Regions from separate parts of the Homo sapiens genome. Here region 2 is linked to region 1. Evidence: fine-mapped expression QTL. A gene starts in region 1. The other region holds a variant in brackets. All regions are shown on one strand. Distances are from middle to middle.

Region 1 (8,329 bases):
CCTGAGGTCAGCAGTTCAAGACCAGCCTGGACAACAGGGCGAGACCCCATCTCTACAAAAAATAAAAAGTCAGCCAGGTGTGGTGGTGCACGCCTCTGGTCCTGGCTACTCTTGGGAGGCTGAGGCTGGAGGATCGCTTGAGCCTGGGAGGCTGAGACTGCAGTGAGCTATGATCACACCACTGCACTCCAGCCTTGGTCACAGAAACCCTGTCTCAAAAAAAAGGGAGGGGGATAGAAGGTTAGAGATCTAAAGGGAAGGAGAGAGGGGTAAGGGGAAAGGGGTAGAGACAGGGAGAGAGAGACACCAGGAGAGAGAGAGACAAAAAAAAAAAAAAAAAAAACAGAAACAGACAAGGGTAAAGATAGAGGGGGAGGGAGAGATATATAGAGAGAGAATGCAGAGAGAGAGCAAGAGAGAGAGTGTATGTGTGAGAGAGGACGAGAGTGCACGAGAGAGTGCGACAGAGAGCATGAGAGAGAGAGCATGAGAGAGCGAGAGAGTGTGTGAGAGGACGAGAGAGCTTGAGGGAGAGTGCACGAGAGAGTGCGAGAGAGCACGAGAGAGCAGGAGAGAGTGCAAGAGACAGCATGAGAGAGAGAGAGATCATGAGGGAGAGAGAGCATGAGACAGCGAGAGAGTGTGAGAGAGAGGACGAGAGAGCTTGAGGGAGAGTGCACGAGAGAGTGAGAGAGAGCACGAGAGAGCAGGAGAGAGTACGAGAGACAGCATGAGAGAGAGAGCAAGAGAGAGAGTGTGTGTGTGAGAGAGGACGAGAGAGCTTGAGAGAGAGTGCACGAGACAGAGTGTGAGAGTGAGCTCGAGAGAGTGCATGGGAGAGTGTGTGTGTGAGAGAGGATGAGAGCTACAGAGCTCGAGAGTGCACGGGAGTGAGCGAGAGAGTGCCTGAGAGAGTGAGACAGACAGCACGAGAGAGACAGCGTGCGCACGAGACAGCGCGCAAGAGAGTGCACGAGAGAATTCCCCAAGGGACGCCTGCTCGGGTCACACCCTGAACGCCAATAAAAGCTTTGGCTCCCAGGACCCTTTTTTTTTCTTGCTTTCCACCCGCTGGTTGAGTGTGTGTCTCAGAGAGCTCCCCTACCTTCCCGTTGGCCCTCTTCTCTCTAGGATCTTTATTTTCTTTAGAGACAGGGTCTGGTCCTGTCACCCAGGCTGGAGTGCAGTGGTGCAATCATAGCTCACTGCAGCCTCAGCCTCTGGGGCTCAAGCTATCTCCCACCTCAGCCTCCCGAGTCACTGGGAGGTGGCATGCGCCACCATGACCAGCTAATTTTCAAAATTTTGTTCTAGAGATGGTGGTCTTGCTATGTTTCCCAAGAAACATAGTCTAGAACTCCTGGGCTCAAGCGATCCTCCCACCTCAGCCTCCCAAAGCGCTGGGATCACAGCCGGGAGCCAAGGTCCTCGGCTATATTTCACGTGTTTCATCTCAGCGTCTCCTGTCTCCGCAACTTATCTGACTGACACACCTGAGCCTCACTCTCCTCCTCACTCAAGGCTCTCCTGGAGACTGGCTATCTTGTTAGGAAGGAACTGAACGGGGTCAAACAGGAGCCCCAAGGGTGTTTACCAGGCTTTGCAAATTTCCTGTAAGAGTGACACCTGGTCCCCTGTCACACACTTAGGCATGATATCATCCACCAGAAGAAAGAGCTGTCCTGTGAAAGACACTGTCAACACCTGTGGCCACCACCCCTGGTGCCCCATCGATGTGGGGCTGGACAGCCACTCTCCAGAAAGGGGCCTCAAGACCAAATTACAGGAAAAATATGGCAAAGGCCGGGGAGGGGGGGAAGATATATCAGGGGTCAGAGACCCAAGGAGAAGAGAGAGCAACAAAGGTCCCTTCCATTACAAAATGGAAGGAACAAAACACGCAAGCGTGCAGTAATTTTAGTCTCTGGGGATGAACCGTGGAAAAACAGAAGAGGAAGAAGCGTTCGAGAGAGGCTGGGAGGAGGTAGAGACTTCCACCTAGAGCAGAACTGTTCATTTCTTCTCCCTCAAGGCTTCTTGCCAATGCCACCCACTCAGATACCACCCCCCCACCCGACCGCCGCGACTCCACTTTAAATGAAAATCCCCAACCCTGGCATGCCCGGATTCCCCACCCACCTCCTTGCCTGATTTTTTCTCTAAAACCTGCTCTTGGCCTGTTTTACTCTACGTGGCATTGCTCTGTTTTTCACATGTTCGTTTTTATTTTTTTGGTCATCTCCTCCTCGGTAGGAGTGATAGTAGAAGGGAAGCTCACCAGGCAGGGATTTCTGTCTGTTTTGTGCGCGACTGCAGTACCGGAACAGTGCCTGCCCACTGCAGATGTATAATTAGTGCTTGTAGCATGAATGGAGGAAGGGTAGCCTTTCCTGTGAGCGTTTTCGTTTACTAACAAAACCCCTTTGATTCTTCCAAGGGAGGAGATCGAATGTGAAGGACTGAGAGGGAAAGGGAGAGAAAGGTAGTGGATGCCCAGAAACACAAACCTGCTCGCTCTCTCTCTCCTCTCTCTCTCTCTCGTTCTCTCCCTTTTCCTTTTTCTCTTGGGAATGATCTCTTTCTCCCCCGCCCTGTTTTTCTTCTTCCCCCTCTCTGTCTCTGTCTCTTCCTCTCTGTTATTCTCCTTCTCTTTTCCTCTCTCTGGCTTTCTTTCTTTTCTTTCTCTTATTTCTTTTTTTCTCTTTCTTCTTTCTTTTTCCTTTCTCTCTCTCTCACCTCCCTCCCTCTCTCCTTCCTTCCTTCTTCTCTTTCTTTTCCTTCCTTCCTTTCTTTCTTTTTCTTTTCCTTTCTTCTTTTTATTTATTTATTTGACAGAATCTCCCTCTGTCACCCAGGCTGGAGAGCAGTGCCATTATCTTGGCTCACTGCAACTTCTGCCTCCCAGGTTCAGGCGATTCTCCTGCCTCGGCCTCCTGAGTAGCTGGGATTACAGGTGCCTGCCACCACACCCGGCTAATTTTTGTAATTTTAGTAGAGACGGGGTTTCACCATGTTGGCCAGGCTGGTCTCAAACTCCTGGGCTCAAGTGATCCACCCGCCGCGCCCTCCGAAAGCGCTGGGATTACAGGCTCCAGCAACCACGCCAGGTCGCCTCTCTCGTTTTTATTCTCTCTTCCTCTATCTGTCTTTTTTCTCTTTCTCCGTCTCTCTCCCTCTCTCTCGTTCTGTCTCCCCCGCCTGTCTCCCTCCCTCCCTCTTCCACTCTCCCTGCGTCTCTCCCTGTTTCTTTCTTTCCCCTTCTTCTCCTGTCCCGTCTGTCCCCTCTGTCCCTCTCTCTGTTCTTTTTTCTGTCTCTCCCTCCCTTTCTCTGGGCCTCTCCCTCCCTCTCTGTCTTCTCTCTGTCTCCCCCTCTCCGTTTCCCTCCCTATCTCTCCCTCCCTCTCTCCCTCCGTCTCTGTCTGTGTCTCTTTCTCTCTGTCTCTCCCCACTTGTCTTTCTACCTCTCCTTCCTTCTCTCTCTGTGCCTCTTCTTCTCCCCGTCCCTCCACGTCCCCCGTGTTACCTGTGTGATTCAGCTGCAGCTCAGCTACGTCCCACTGGAAGAAAAGACCAGAAAACAGGGCACGGACGTAAGCAGAGAGGTTCTATGTGTCCCCTGTGCCAGGAGCTCTCTTTTCTCTGTCCATCCTCCTTTCCACCTCTCATCCCACGGCGCGCACTGGTGATTTTATTTCATTTTATTTTTTTTTACTCTTAAGACTTCTTAAAGAGGAAGCAGGTCTGAACCAGCGGGGAACGTGAAGTCGAGACCTTCAAAAGAACTTCTTCGTTTCCCGAATCGTTTTCCTGGATGTCACTGGGCGCGAGAGCACCGCGCGCAGCGGACTCTCTACGCTGCAAAGGCGCCCGGCGCGGTCCCCAAAGGGACCCCTCCCCCACCCGGAGCGAGTGGCTGGGGCCATCCCGTCCTAGGAGGCCCCAGGAAGCCCCCACGCCCAGCCTTGTGAAGCCCCCAGCAGCCTCTGAGTCAGCCTGCCGGGGGAACACCAGAGCCGAGTCATCTTCCATTTCCATGTGTGCCTACCTTTCCCATCCCGGGATCTCCCTGTACCTCCTGGCAGGGCTGCCTGTCTCGTAGCCCCTACACCGGGCAGCCTGGTCCCCGCCTCGCCTCCCTGTTCTGGTCTCTGTCTCTGCCCTACCAGATCTTCCTCTCTGGCCTCTTTGTACCCATCTCATTCTGTCTTTTCGGTCACGCGCCTCTCTATGTTTTCTTCCCAACTTTTCCATCTCAACTCACCCCAAGTGACTCGAGCGGCAGCTGCTGCTGAGCCTGTGCGAAGCGCTGGATGCACACCACGAGGCAGATCACCAAGCCCGCGACCAATGGGACCAAAGCAGCCCGCAGGACGCACCCATAGGGCCTGCGCCGCACCGAGCAGCCCGAACCCTCCTCCGGCATCGCCGCGGCGATCACCTCCGCTAGCGCAGGAGGGGCGATGGGGGCGCGGAGCGCTGCCGAGAAGGAAGGAAGGAAACTGCAGCCCCCTCCCGGGGCTCCTGGGCGTCTACTTGCTTCAACCTGTCAGGGGACCAGCCTGCCCCTCTCTGGGGATGTCCGGCCGGTCGAGGGGAGGGACTTGAGCAATTGGCGAGGGGAAATTCCCTCCAACCGCTGCCAGTCTGAAGATCCTAAAGTGGGTGGAGGCAGTTGCCAGGATGCAGGCAGTGGCCCCGGGTGAGCCTCAGAGTTGCCTGCCCCCAACCCCTCCCCGCCCGACCTTCAGGCAGGAGACATTCAATCTTCCTATTCCCCTCTCCACCTCATTCTTCTGGGGCCCATTCATTTATTCAACAAACCTCCACTGCACATTTATTAGGGATTAGATTGTGCTGTGCACTGGGGATACAGCAGACATCCAAGAATTGGGGGTGCTCCCCAAATATTCGTGTACCCCTCTCCTGCATTTTTTTGATTTGTTTTGTTTTTGAGACGGAGGTCTCCCTCTGTCACCCAGGCTGGAGTGCAGTGGCGCCATCTCAGCTCGCCGCAACCTCGATCTCCTGGGTTCAAGCGATTCTCCTGTCTGAGCCTCGCGAGTAGCTGGGAGTAACATGCGCGCGCCACCATGCCTGGCTAATTTTTTGTATTTTTAGTAGAGATGGGGTTTCACCATGTTGGCCAGGCTGGACTTGAACTCCTGACCTTGGGTGATCCACCCGCCTTGGCCTTCCAAAGTGCTGGGATTAAAGGCATGAGACACTGCACCCGGTCAGTTATCTCCTGCATTCTTGGAGACCACCTGCTTTTTTGTTTAAAGTTAAATTAAGTTAATATTTTTATTTTTTATTTTTATTTTATTTTATTATTTATTTTTTTTTTTTTTGAGACAGAGTCTCGCTCTGTCGCCCAGGCTGGAGTGCAGTGGCGCCATCTCGGCTCACTGCAAGCTCCGCCTCCCGGGTTCACGCCATTCTCCTGCCTCAGCCTCTCAAGTAGCTGGGACTACAGGCGCCCGCCACCACGCCCGGCTAACTTTTTGTATTTTTAGTAGAGATGGGTTTTCACCATGTTAGCGAGGATGGTCTCCATCTCCTGACCTCGTGATCTGCCCGCCTTGGCCTCCCAAAGTGCTGGGATTACAGGCGTGAGCCGCCGCGCCCGGCCTAAATTAATATTTTTAGAGACAGAGTGTTGCTCTGTTGCCCAGGCTGGATGCAGTGGCGCCACACAGCTCACAGCAGCCTCAAACTCCTGGGCTTCAGTGACCCTCCCATCTCAGCCTTTTGCATAGTTGGGTCTACCAGCACACGCTACCATGCCCGGCTAATTTTTTTTTTGGGGGGGGTAGAGGATAGGGTGTTACTATGTTACCAGGCTGGTCTCAAACATCTGGGCTCAAGCGATCCTGCTGCGTAGGTCCCCCAAAGTGCCGGGATGACAGGTGTGAGCCACCGCATCCAGCCTCCTGCTGCTGTTCTCGATGGCTGTAGTGGGTTAACGGTGTCCTCCCAGAATTCATGGCCTCCTGGAACTGCAGAATATGACCTCATTTTGAAATTACGGGGTTTTTTTTGCAGATATAATTAGGCTTAAATGAGGTCATACTGGATTAGAGTGGGCCCTCAGGTGGAGAGAAAAGAGGCTCATAGAGAAGGAGCCGTGTGAAAACAGAAACAGAAACTGAATGAGGCAGATGAAAGTCAAGAAACACCAAGAAGGAGCCAGGCGCAGTGGCTCACGCCTGTAATCCCAGCACTTTGGGAGGCTGAGGCAGGCGGATCACTTGATATCAGGAGTTTGAGACCCTCCTGGCTAACACGGTGAAACCCCCGTCTCTACTAAAAATACAAAAAATTAGCCGGGCATGGTGGCGGGCGCCTGTAGTCCCAGCTACTCAGGAGGCTGAGGCAGGAGAATGGCGTGAACCCGGGAGGTGGAGCTTGCAGTGAGCCGAGATCACGCCACTGAACTCCAGCCTGGGTGACAGAGTGAGACTCCGTCTCAAAAAAAAAAAAAAAAGAGTTGGAGACCAGCCTGGCCAACATGGTGGAACCCCATCTCTACTAAAAATTCAAAAAATAGCTGGGTGTGGTGGTGGGCACCTTTAATCCCAGCTACTCAGGAAGCTGAGGCAGGAGAATCGCTCAAACCCGGGAGGCAGAGGTTGCAGTGAGCCGAGATCACACCATTGCACTCCAGCCTGGGTGACAGAGCGAGACTCTGTCTTAAAAATATATATATTTTTTAAAAAGAGGATCCAGCCTCTTTTTCCGGCTGGAACCATGGAGGGTGTAGAAGAGAAGAAGAAGGAAGTTCCCGCTGTGCCAGAAACCCCTAAGAAAAAGCGAAGGAATTTCACAGAGCTGAAGACCAAGCGCCTGAGAAAGAAGTTTGCCCAAAAGATGCTTCGAAAGGCAAGGAGGAAGCTTATCTATGAAAAATTGAAGCACTATCACAAGGAATATAGGCAGAGGTACAGAACTGAAATTCGAATGGAAAAGATGTCAAGAAAAGCTGGCAACTTCTATGAACCTGCAGAATCCAGACTGGCGTTTGTCATCAGGATCAGAGGTATCGATGGTGTGAGCCCAAAGGTCCGAAATGTGTTGCAGCTTCTTTGCCTTTGTCAAATCTTCAATGGAACCTTTGTGAAGGCCAATTAACATGCTGAGGATTGTAGAGCCATACATTGCATGCGGGTACCTAAATCTGAAGTCAGTAAATAAACTAATCTACAAGCGTGGTTATGGCAAAATCAATAAGAAACGAATTGCTTTGACAGATAACGCTTTGCACGATCTCTTGGAAAATATGGCATCATCTGTATGGAGGATGTGATTCATGAGGTCCATACTGTTGGAAAACGCTTCAAAGAAGCACATAACTTCCTGTGGTCCTTCAAAGTATCTTCTCCATGAGGCAGAATGAAGAAACAGACCACCCATTTCGTGGAAGGTGGAGATGCTGGCAACAGGGAGGACCAGATCAACAGGCTTGTTAGAAGAATGAACTATGGTGTGTACTATAATTATTTTTCTAAGCTGTTCAATAAACATTACCTGCTCTCAAATGGAAAGAAAAATATGTCTGTATATACATACAGTTAGGGTCCCAAGGGCCTCTGGCTATGAATCATCAAGAAGTCAGTGTCATCAGCAGCAAACTCACAGCCAACAGCGCTAGAACTCGTGCCTGGGGATAGCTTCTCTAACACGTGGATTTCCTCCTCTGTGAGGCTCATCACGGCCTCCTTGCTCTTGGGGGACATTAGACAGGGCTTCAGCACTATTTGGGGGCTGTTTGAAACAGCAAAATTACCAACAAAAAGCAAAAAATTGAAAGGAGATAAAAATGGGAGATTTCAGAGCCTGAGCCTATAGCATTTGCTGGGTGGGTGAAGAGGGTGGTCAAAGAGGTCCAGAATTTTGAGGTATCCAGAAATCAAAATATCCTCCCTGAGATCCCCAAGTACTAAAGGGATTTCCTTCACGGAAGCCCTAGGACTCCAGGTCTGGGGGAAGCGGGTAGACAGCACCTTCAAGACAATCTCCTACCTTAATTTATTTAATATTTACTTAGCTGATCTTTTTATCAGCTTAAGATATAAATAGTTTAGATTCATATCATTAAGAAATAACTAATACCTTCTAAAAGATGGGGGAAAGAGAGATGGGGTGGGGTGGCTCATACATGTAATCTCAGCACTTTGGGAGGCCGAGGTGTCTTAGGAAAATCCCAAAATGAGACAGGAGCAGCCAACTCATAAAAATAAATACAACTGCTTGGCCGGGCGCAGTGGCTCACACCTGTAATCTCAGCACTTTGGGAGGCCGAGGCGGGCGGATCACAAGGTCAGGAGTTCAA
Region 2 (8,329 bases), 20 kb after region 1:
GGCTTAATGCAACTTCTGCTTCCTGGGTTCAAGTAATCCTCCTATTTAGTCCCCCAAATAGCTGGGACCACAGGTGCACGGCACCATGCCCGACTAATTTTTTTTTTTTCATTTTCAACAAGTGTTTTGTCACCAAACATTAAAAACCTACACAAAATACAGGCCAGGTACAGTGGCTCACGCCTGTAATCCCAGAACTTTGGGAGTCCGAGGCGGGCAGATCACCTGAGGTCAGGAGTTCGAGACCAGCCTGGCCAACATGGTGAAACTCCCTCTCTACTAAAAATTCAAAAATTAGCCAGGCGTGGTCATGTGCAATTGCAGTCCCAGCTACTCAGGAGGCTGAGGCTTGAGAATTGCTTGGACCTGGGAGGCGGAGGTTGCAATGAGCTGAGATCATGCCACTGCACTCCAGCCTGGGTGACGAGAGCCAGACTTCATCTCAAAAAACAAAAATATATACAGAATACAAAGATAGTATAATAGACTTGTCACCCAGGTTGAACAGCTACTAGTCATGCCATGTTTGCTTCATCTATACTTTGACCCATTTCCTACCCCCCAATTTATTAGTTTTTTGGGTTTTCTTTTTAGATAAAATGTATACATATTGAAAGGTACAATCTGAACTGTACCATTTTGACAAATTAATACACTCATATAGACTTCCCCCCTTTAAAGAATAGAATTACTCCACTTACTAATCATTAATGTACATATAAGTTACGTCGAAGTAGTATTTACAATCCAAATTTTTATAAAATAGGTCAGAGTTTTGACTGAGAATTTTTTTTTTTTTTTGAGACCGAGTCTTGCCCTGTTGCCCAGGCTGGAGTGCAGTGGTGCAATCTTGGCTCACCGCAACCTCTGCCTCCCAGGTTCAAGCGATTCTCCTGCCTCAGCCTCCCGAGTAGCTGGGATTACAGGCTTGCGCCACCTCGCCTGTCTAATTTTTTGTGTTTTTAGTAGAGATGGGGTTTTGCCATCTTTGCCAGGTTGGTCTTGAACTCCTGACCTTCTGATCCACCCACCTCAGCCTCCCAAACTGCTGGGATTACACGCGTGAGCCACCGCGCCTGGCCGAGAATTTTTATTTTTAAAAAAGTAGAGATCTGTAGAGCACACAGTAACTACAATGTCTATTTATCTCAAGTAAATACAGTTTGATGAATAAAATTAAGGAAAATTCACCTAAGATGAAAAAAAAACAATCAAACCATCTGTGCAATATGCTATCTGTAGGAGCATTTGGTTAAGAATAACAAACTAACCCAACAATTTTATTATTTTAATAACCAAAATTGGCACAAATTTCTACTATTGTTTTCATAGAAATGCTCCCTCACAATAAAAAAATTTTCATATCATGAGAGCAAAAACAGCAAATATTTGAAAAAGTAGATGTCTTATAAAATTAAGTAGCAAAGGCCAGGCGCAGTGGCTCATGCCAGTAATCCCAGCACTTCGGGAGGCCGAGGCGGGAGGATCACCTGAGGTCAGGGGTTCGAGACTAGCCTGGCCAACATGGTGAAACCATATCTCTACTAAAAATTCCAAAATTAGCCAGACGTGGTGGCGGGCAGGAGAATCGCTTGAATCTGGGAGACAGAGGTTGCAGTGAGCCGAGATCTTGCCACTGTACTCTAGTTTGGGTGACAAGAGCAAAACTCCATCTCAAAAAAAAAAAAGAAAAATCACAGTTACCTATAATTCGATCATTCAATCAATCATCAGATAACTCAGCTCATTCAATTATCTGCAAGTGTAGATAATTCTCATAGCTTCCTATTAAAATTATGTTTTATGCCCTTACAAATTTTAACTTAGTTTTTCTTTTATTTATTTATTAGTAGGAGTCTCACTCTGTCGCCCAGGCTGGAGTGCAGTGGCACAATCTTGGCTCTCTGCAACCTCCACCTCCTGGGTTCATGCAATTCTCCTGCCTCAGCCTCCTGAGTAGCTGACATTACAGGCATGAGGCACCACACCCAGCTAATCCCACAGTGCAGGGATTAGAGGCATAAGCCACCTCCCCCTCCTACTTTTTCTTCTTACTTGGTCCGAGGGCTGTGGGACGGGGCCCCACCCCAGCCCATCACCAGAGACTTTTGGTCTTGGCCATGTGTCCTAAGACTTAATAGTTCTTGCACATTCTCTTGGTAATCAATTCAATTTGTTTCTTCCAAATCTTGCAGTAAAACTGATGTTCCAGCCAGGCGCTGTGGCTCATGCCTAGACGGTTTTCATCTTGACATGACCCTTGTGCTAGGAGTGTAAAGTAGAAAACCACAGATGGATACACATCATTGCCAGTCCCTTTTCACTAACCAAAGCGTGTCAGTGACCCTGCTTAACTTTAGTGGGTGCAGGGAAGTGGCATGCTTGCAAGAGTCAGAAAGAAAGCTGAAAATACTAGGTGGAGAACACGAATCGCTATCAAAACCCACCCATTTGATCACAGAAACTCAGCTCATGCTCCTTCCTGCTTGCAAAATACAGTCACCCCTCCAAGAGAGAACTCCATAGTCCCACCTGTAATGGCATCAAGCCTCTTTTTCTTTCCATGTGGTCTGTGATCATTCAGTAGCCTAGCCAAGCTTTTTTTTTTTTTTAAAATTACTGAACATATATTTCTGAGTTCCTGCTGTTTCCAAGGTATTAATACAATAGTGCAGAAATCAAAGTTCCTACCCTCTTGGAGATTGCATTTGATGAGTTCCCATTTGTGTCAGGCCAACTTTCTTGCATTCTGTTTTTATTTTAAAAATAAATATGGTCTCAAAAAACAAACAAAAACAACAGCAACAAAATGGTCTCAGTTAATATTCCAACAGCCCTGGGAGATAAGTAGTATTATCTTGAGATGCCTTTTGTGAATTTTCAGCAACAACTAGAATTTTAAAAACAATCCATAGATATTTCCATAACGTACGTATATGAAAGGACACAGTGAACAATGATAAGAAAACTTAGGTTTTAAAAAGGTTAAGTACCTTATTAAAGGTAAAAGCTGGCCAGGCGTGGTAGCTCACGCCTGTAATCCCAAAACTTTGGGAGGCTGAGGCAGGCTGATCACTTGAGGTCAGGAGTTCGAGACAAGCCTGGCCAACATGGTGAAACCCTATCTCTACTAAAAATACAAAAATTAGCCAGGCATGGGGGCGGGTGCCTGTAATCCCAGCTACTTGGGAGGCCAAGACATGAGAATCACTTGAAACCAGGAGGCGGAGGTTGCAGTGAGCTGAGATCGTGCCACTGCACTCCAGCCTAGGTGACAGAGTGAGACTCTGTCTCAAAAAGAAAAATAAATAAATAAATAAAAATAAATAAATAAAGCAAAGCCAAAATTCAAAACTCAAACTTTATTTTGACTCCAGAGTTCCTTTTATACAATACCTTTTCCTCTGAAGTCATGCCCCAGCTGATATCACAGTCAAAATACATTTTAAAGGATGAGTGGGACAGAGGTGTAATGGGGAAAAGGTACTAGTCAAAACTTTTTAAAAAATAGGCTTTTATGGGTGTGGTGGCTCATGCCTGTAATCCCAGCAACTTGGGAGGCTGAGGCAGGAGAATTGCTTGAACCTGGGAGGTGGAGGTTGCGGTAAGCCAAGATCGCTCCATTGCACTCCAGCCTAGGCAACAAGAGTGAAGCTCCGTCTCAAAAAAAAAAAAAAAAAAAAAAAGTCTTTTTAGAGCAGTTTTAGTTTCGCAGCAAAATTGAGCAGAAAATACAAAAAGTTCCCACACACCCCTAGAGCCCCCTGCTCCACAAACAATCCCATTGTTAACATCCCACCGCACCCGGCCGGCTCTGTGTATTTGTCTTCACTTTTTTCCCCTGCTTCTTGGATTTGCTAACTTTATGGTTGCCTTATCTTCAAGTTTGTTGATCTTTTTTCTACCTACTCAAATCTGTTCTTGAATTCGTCTAATGAATTATCACCTCCATTATTGTAACTTTCAGCTCCAGAATTCCTGTTTGTGAATTTTTAATAATTTATTTCTTTCTATTGACATTCTCACTTCTTTCATATATCATTCTCATGATCTGCTTTAGTTCTTTGTCCATATTTTCCTTCATCTCACTGAACACATTGGAGACAGTTGATTTAATGTCTTTGACTAATAGTTTCAATGTGTGGGCTTCCCTAGTAACAGTATATGTTAAATCATGGTTTATTGTAAATGAGTTATACTTTCCTATGTCTTTATGCTTTGTAATTACAACTGGACATCCTGAGTATTATGATTCATAAGTCTGGAACTCCGATGCTCCAAGTCTTCATGGATTGCTGATTTCTGCTTACTGAAGGCTGAAACTATTCATTTCTGACTTTTCCCGACTGTTTTTTGGCAACTGTGTATCCTTTGGGTGTGATCACTGAAGTGTCTTTTCCATTTTGTGGTCAGTTAGTAACATGACAAAGATTTTACAAGGCATCGAACCTCTAAGTCTGAGGGATAC[G/C]AAGGGACTCAAGAGAGCCAAAACAAGCATCTTATTGGCTTCTCAGGAATTGCCAGACCTAGTAGAGTGCAAATTCCCCAAATTTTGGAGGCCAAGGTCTCAACTGCCTGCTCTGGCACTGGTCACCTGTTTGAGGAAAATGGACTGTCTCCAAATTGCCCCACTCGGACGGAGGAATGGGGAGTGGGGGCTGGTTTGTGAAGGCTGTTCTCTTTCTAAAGTCTCAGTCTCTCTTTTCATCAAGCACTCCTCTCATTATTATAAGTGCTGCAACAGGATGACTAGTTCTGAAATCATTGATTCTGTGTCTCCTGCCCCTCAGTTCACTGTTTATTTCACTGGAGGGAGGGGCTCCCAGAGCTTTCTACTCCGTCTTTTTGCTTGATCTCACTGTTTGCTGACTTTCTGAGATATGCCCAAACTCATATGGCTATTGGAAATTTCCACATTAAAAGTACTTCACCACATTGGGCAACATGGTGAAATCCTGTCTCTACAAAAAAGAAAAATACAAAAATTCCTTGGGTGAGGTGGCACACTCCCGTAGTCCCAGCTACTTGAGAGGCTGAGGTGGGAGAATCGCTTGAGACCGGGAGGCAGAGGTTGCAGTGAGCCGAGATCGCACTACTGCACTCCAGCCTGGGTGACAGAGTGAGGCTCTGTCTCAAAAAAAAAAAAAAAAAAAAAGGTACTTGACATGATAGTTTCCAATAAAAACATTTTAACCTAATTCCTTCATTTCACTCTTTAGCAATCAATATGTGAAAATTATATTGAACTGGTAAAAATGCAGGTTACAAAGATAAGATAAATATGAAATGCTATGATACACTTCTGACCACTGGAAGACATAAGAGAGAGTTGCAATGATTATATTTAATATTTTGGTTAGTAAACAGAGAGAACGCATCTACCCAGGGATTCAGTAGGGGTATGTGAAGATTTAATAAGGTAAGTAATCCTTAGTTTTTGAGAAACCAGAGATAGAAAATATGTTGGTGATTTTTTTTTTTTTTTGAGATGGAGTCTGGCTCTTTTCGCCCAAGCTGGACTGCAGTGGTGTGCTCTCAGCTCACTGTAACCTCTGCCTCCCGGGTTCATGCCATTCTCCTGCCTCAGCCTCCTGAGTAGCTGGGATTATGGGTGTGTACCACCACACCTGGCTAATTTTTTTTCTTTTTTGAGACGGAGTCTTGCTCTCTTGCCCAGGCTGGAGTGCAGTGGCGTGATCTCGGCTCACTGCAAGCTCCGTCTCCCAGGTTCATGCCATTCTCCTGCCTCAGCTTCCCGAGTAGCTGGGACTACAGGTGTCTGCCACCACGCCCGGCTAATTTTTTGTATTTTTAGTAGAGACGGGGTTTCACCGTGTTAGCCAGGATGGTCTCGATCTCCTGACCTCGTGATCCGCCCGCCTTGGCCTCCCAAAGTGCTGGGATTACAGGTGTGAGCCACCGCGCCCGGTCAATTTTTTTTTTTTAACTTTAAGTTCCGGGATACATGTGCAGAACATGCAGGTTTGTTACATAAGTATATGTGTGCCATGGCGGTTTGCTGCACCTGCTGACCCGTCCTCTAAGTTGCCTCCTCTCACTTCTCACCCCCCAACAGGCCCGATGTGTGACGTTCCCCTCCCTGTGTCCATGTGTTCTCATTGTTCAGCTCCCACTTATGAGTGAGAACATGCGGTGTTTGGTTTTCTGTTCCTGTGTTAGTTTGCTGAGGGTGATGGTTTCCAGCTTCATCCATGTCCCTGCAAAGGACACGATCTCTTTCCTTTTTATGACTGCGTAGTATTCCATGGTGTATAGGTACCACATTTTCTTTATCCAGTCTATCATCGATGGACATTTGGGTTGGTGCCATGACTTTGCTATTGTAAATAGTGCTGCAATAAACATATGGTGCGTGTGTCTTTATAGTAGAATAATTTATGTTCTCTTTTTTTTTTTTTTTTTGAGATGAAGTCTCAGTTTGTCACCCAGGCTGGAGTGCAGTGGCATAATCTTGGCCCACTGCAACCTCCAACTCCCGGGTTCAAGCAATTCTCCTGCCTCATCCTTCCGGGTAGCTGGGATTGCAGGTGCCCACCACCATGCCTGGCTAATTTTTGTATTTTTAGTAGAGATGATATTTCGCCACGTTGGACCAGGCTGGTCTCGAACTCCTGGCCTCAGGTGATCTGCTCACCTTGGCCTCTCAAAATGCTGGGATTACAGGCGTGAGCCGCCACACCCGGCCAGGATTGTTATTACTACTTTTAACCCATTTCCCATTTGCCCCGAGAATACTCTTGTCTCTAATCCCAATGTAACATCATATACATTTCTGCTACATTAGGATTAGAGACAAATTCTGTTCAGAAATAACTCCAAGAACAGTTTTTATATTTTATTTGCACATTGAAACTCAACCAGATTTGCTTCAGCCTCAACAAGTGTGTTTATGTAAAGTTAAATGAACTCTGGCAGTGAGCTGCACGTTTTTTAAAATTAGGAAATGAGTTAGCTAATATTGAACTTGAGGTTTTAGTCAATGCAATGAGACAAAAAGATTGAATAGGAAGAAATGAGTCATTATTTAGAGATTACTTCATTATGTATGTAGAAAATTCTAGGCCAGTCATTGTGGCTCACGCCTGTAACCCCAGCACTTTAGGAGGCCGAGGTGGGTGGATCATGAGGCCAGGAGATCGAGACTATCCTGGCTAACACGGTGAAACCCTGTCTCTACTAAAAATACAAAGAACTAGCCGCCTGTAGTCTCAGCTACTTGGGAGGCTGAGGCAGGAGAATGGCGTGAACCCAGGAGGTGGAGCTTACAGTGAGCCGAGATCACACCACTGCACTCCAGCCTGGGTGACAGAGTGAGACTCTGTCTCAAAAAAAAAAAAAAAAGAAAATTCTAAATAATCTACACATAGTTTTATTTTTACTTTTGAGATGGACTCACTGTGTCGCCCAGGCTGGAGTGCAGTGGTGCAATCTCGGCTCACTGCAACCTCTGCCTCCCAGGTTCAAGCAATTCTCCTCCCTCAACCTCCCAAGTAGCTGGGACAACAGGTGCTCACCACCACACCCAGCTAATTTTTTCTGTAGTTTTAGTAGAGATGTGGTTTTATCGTGTAGGCCAGGGTGGTCTCAAACTTCTGGTCTCAGGTGATCCACCCATCTCAGCCTTCCAAAGTACTTGGATTACAGGTGTGGGCCACCACGCCCAACCTACACATAGTTTTTTTTTTTTTTTTTTTTTTTTGAGACAGAGTTTTGCTCTGTTGCCCAGGCTGGAGTACAGTGGTATATCTTGGCTCACCACGACCTTCTCTTCCCGGGTTCAAGCAATTCTGTTGCCTCAGCCTCCTGAGTAGCTGGGATTACAGGCATGCACTACCACACCCGGCTAATTTTTGTATTCTTAGTAGAGATGAGGTTTCACCATGTTGCCCAGGCTGGTCTCAAACTCCTGACCTCAGGGGATCCGCCCACCTCAGCCTCCCAAAGTGCTGGGATTACAGGCATAAGCCACTGCGCCCGGCCTACACATAGTTTTAATATATTGATTTAGCAACAACACCGGAGGCAAAGCCAAAGTACAAAAATAAATCATATTTTTATATACCACTGTCAACTAGAAAAGACATGTAAAACTATGTCATTTACAAACTCAACAAAAATATATCAAATACCTGGGACTACATCTAATGGAAGCACTATATAAATTCTACACCAAAAACCATAAAATGTTACTGAGAAAATTAAAGAAAGCTTAAATAAATAGAAGGATATACCATGGCCAAGAGGTTGGAACATTTAATACCATGAAGACACCAATTCTACACCAATATCTATTGATCTATAGATTCAA

What was found.
Region 2: its variant is fine-mapped to the expression of CD70 in esophagus muscle (GTEx, PIP above 0.99). The same link has a PIP of 0.9 or more in gastroesophageal junction, subcutaneous fat and visceral fat.

Annotation. Positions count from the first base shown.
Region 1 is chr19:6,586,580-6,594,908 of GRCh38, forward strand. CD70 (CD70 molecule) reads right to left here and starts at 4,571. Exons shown (of 3, transcript NM_001252.5): 1 at 4,262-4,571; 2 at 3,524-3,557. The coding sequence starts at 4,423. It also overlaps the pseudogene RPL7P50. RefSeq lists enhancers at 1-641, 1,743-1,922, 2,213-2,292, 3,471-3,840, 4,341-4,740 and 2 more.
Region 2 is chr19:6,606,857-6,615,185 of GRCh38, forward strand. No RefSeq gene overlaps it. Among named protein-coding and RNA genes, the nearest start is that of CD70, 20 kb to the left of the region's middle. RefSeq lists an enhancer at 2,152-2,261. The variant G/C (reference allele first, on the strand shown) is at 4,469.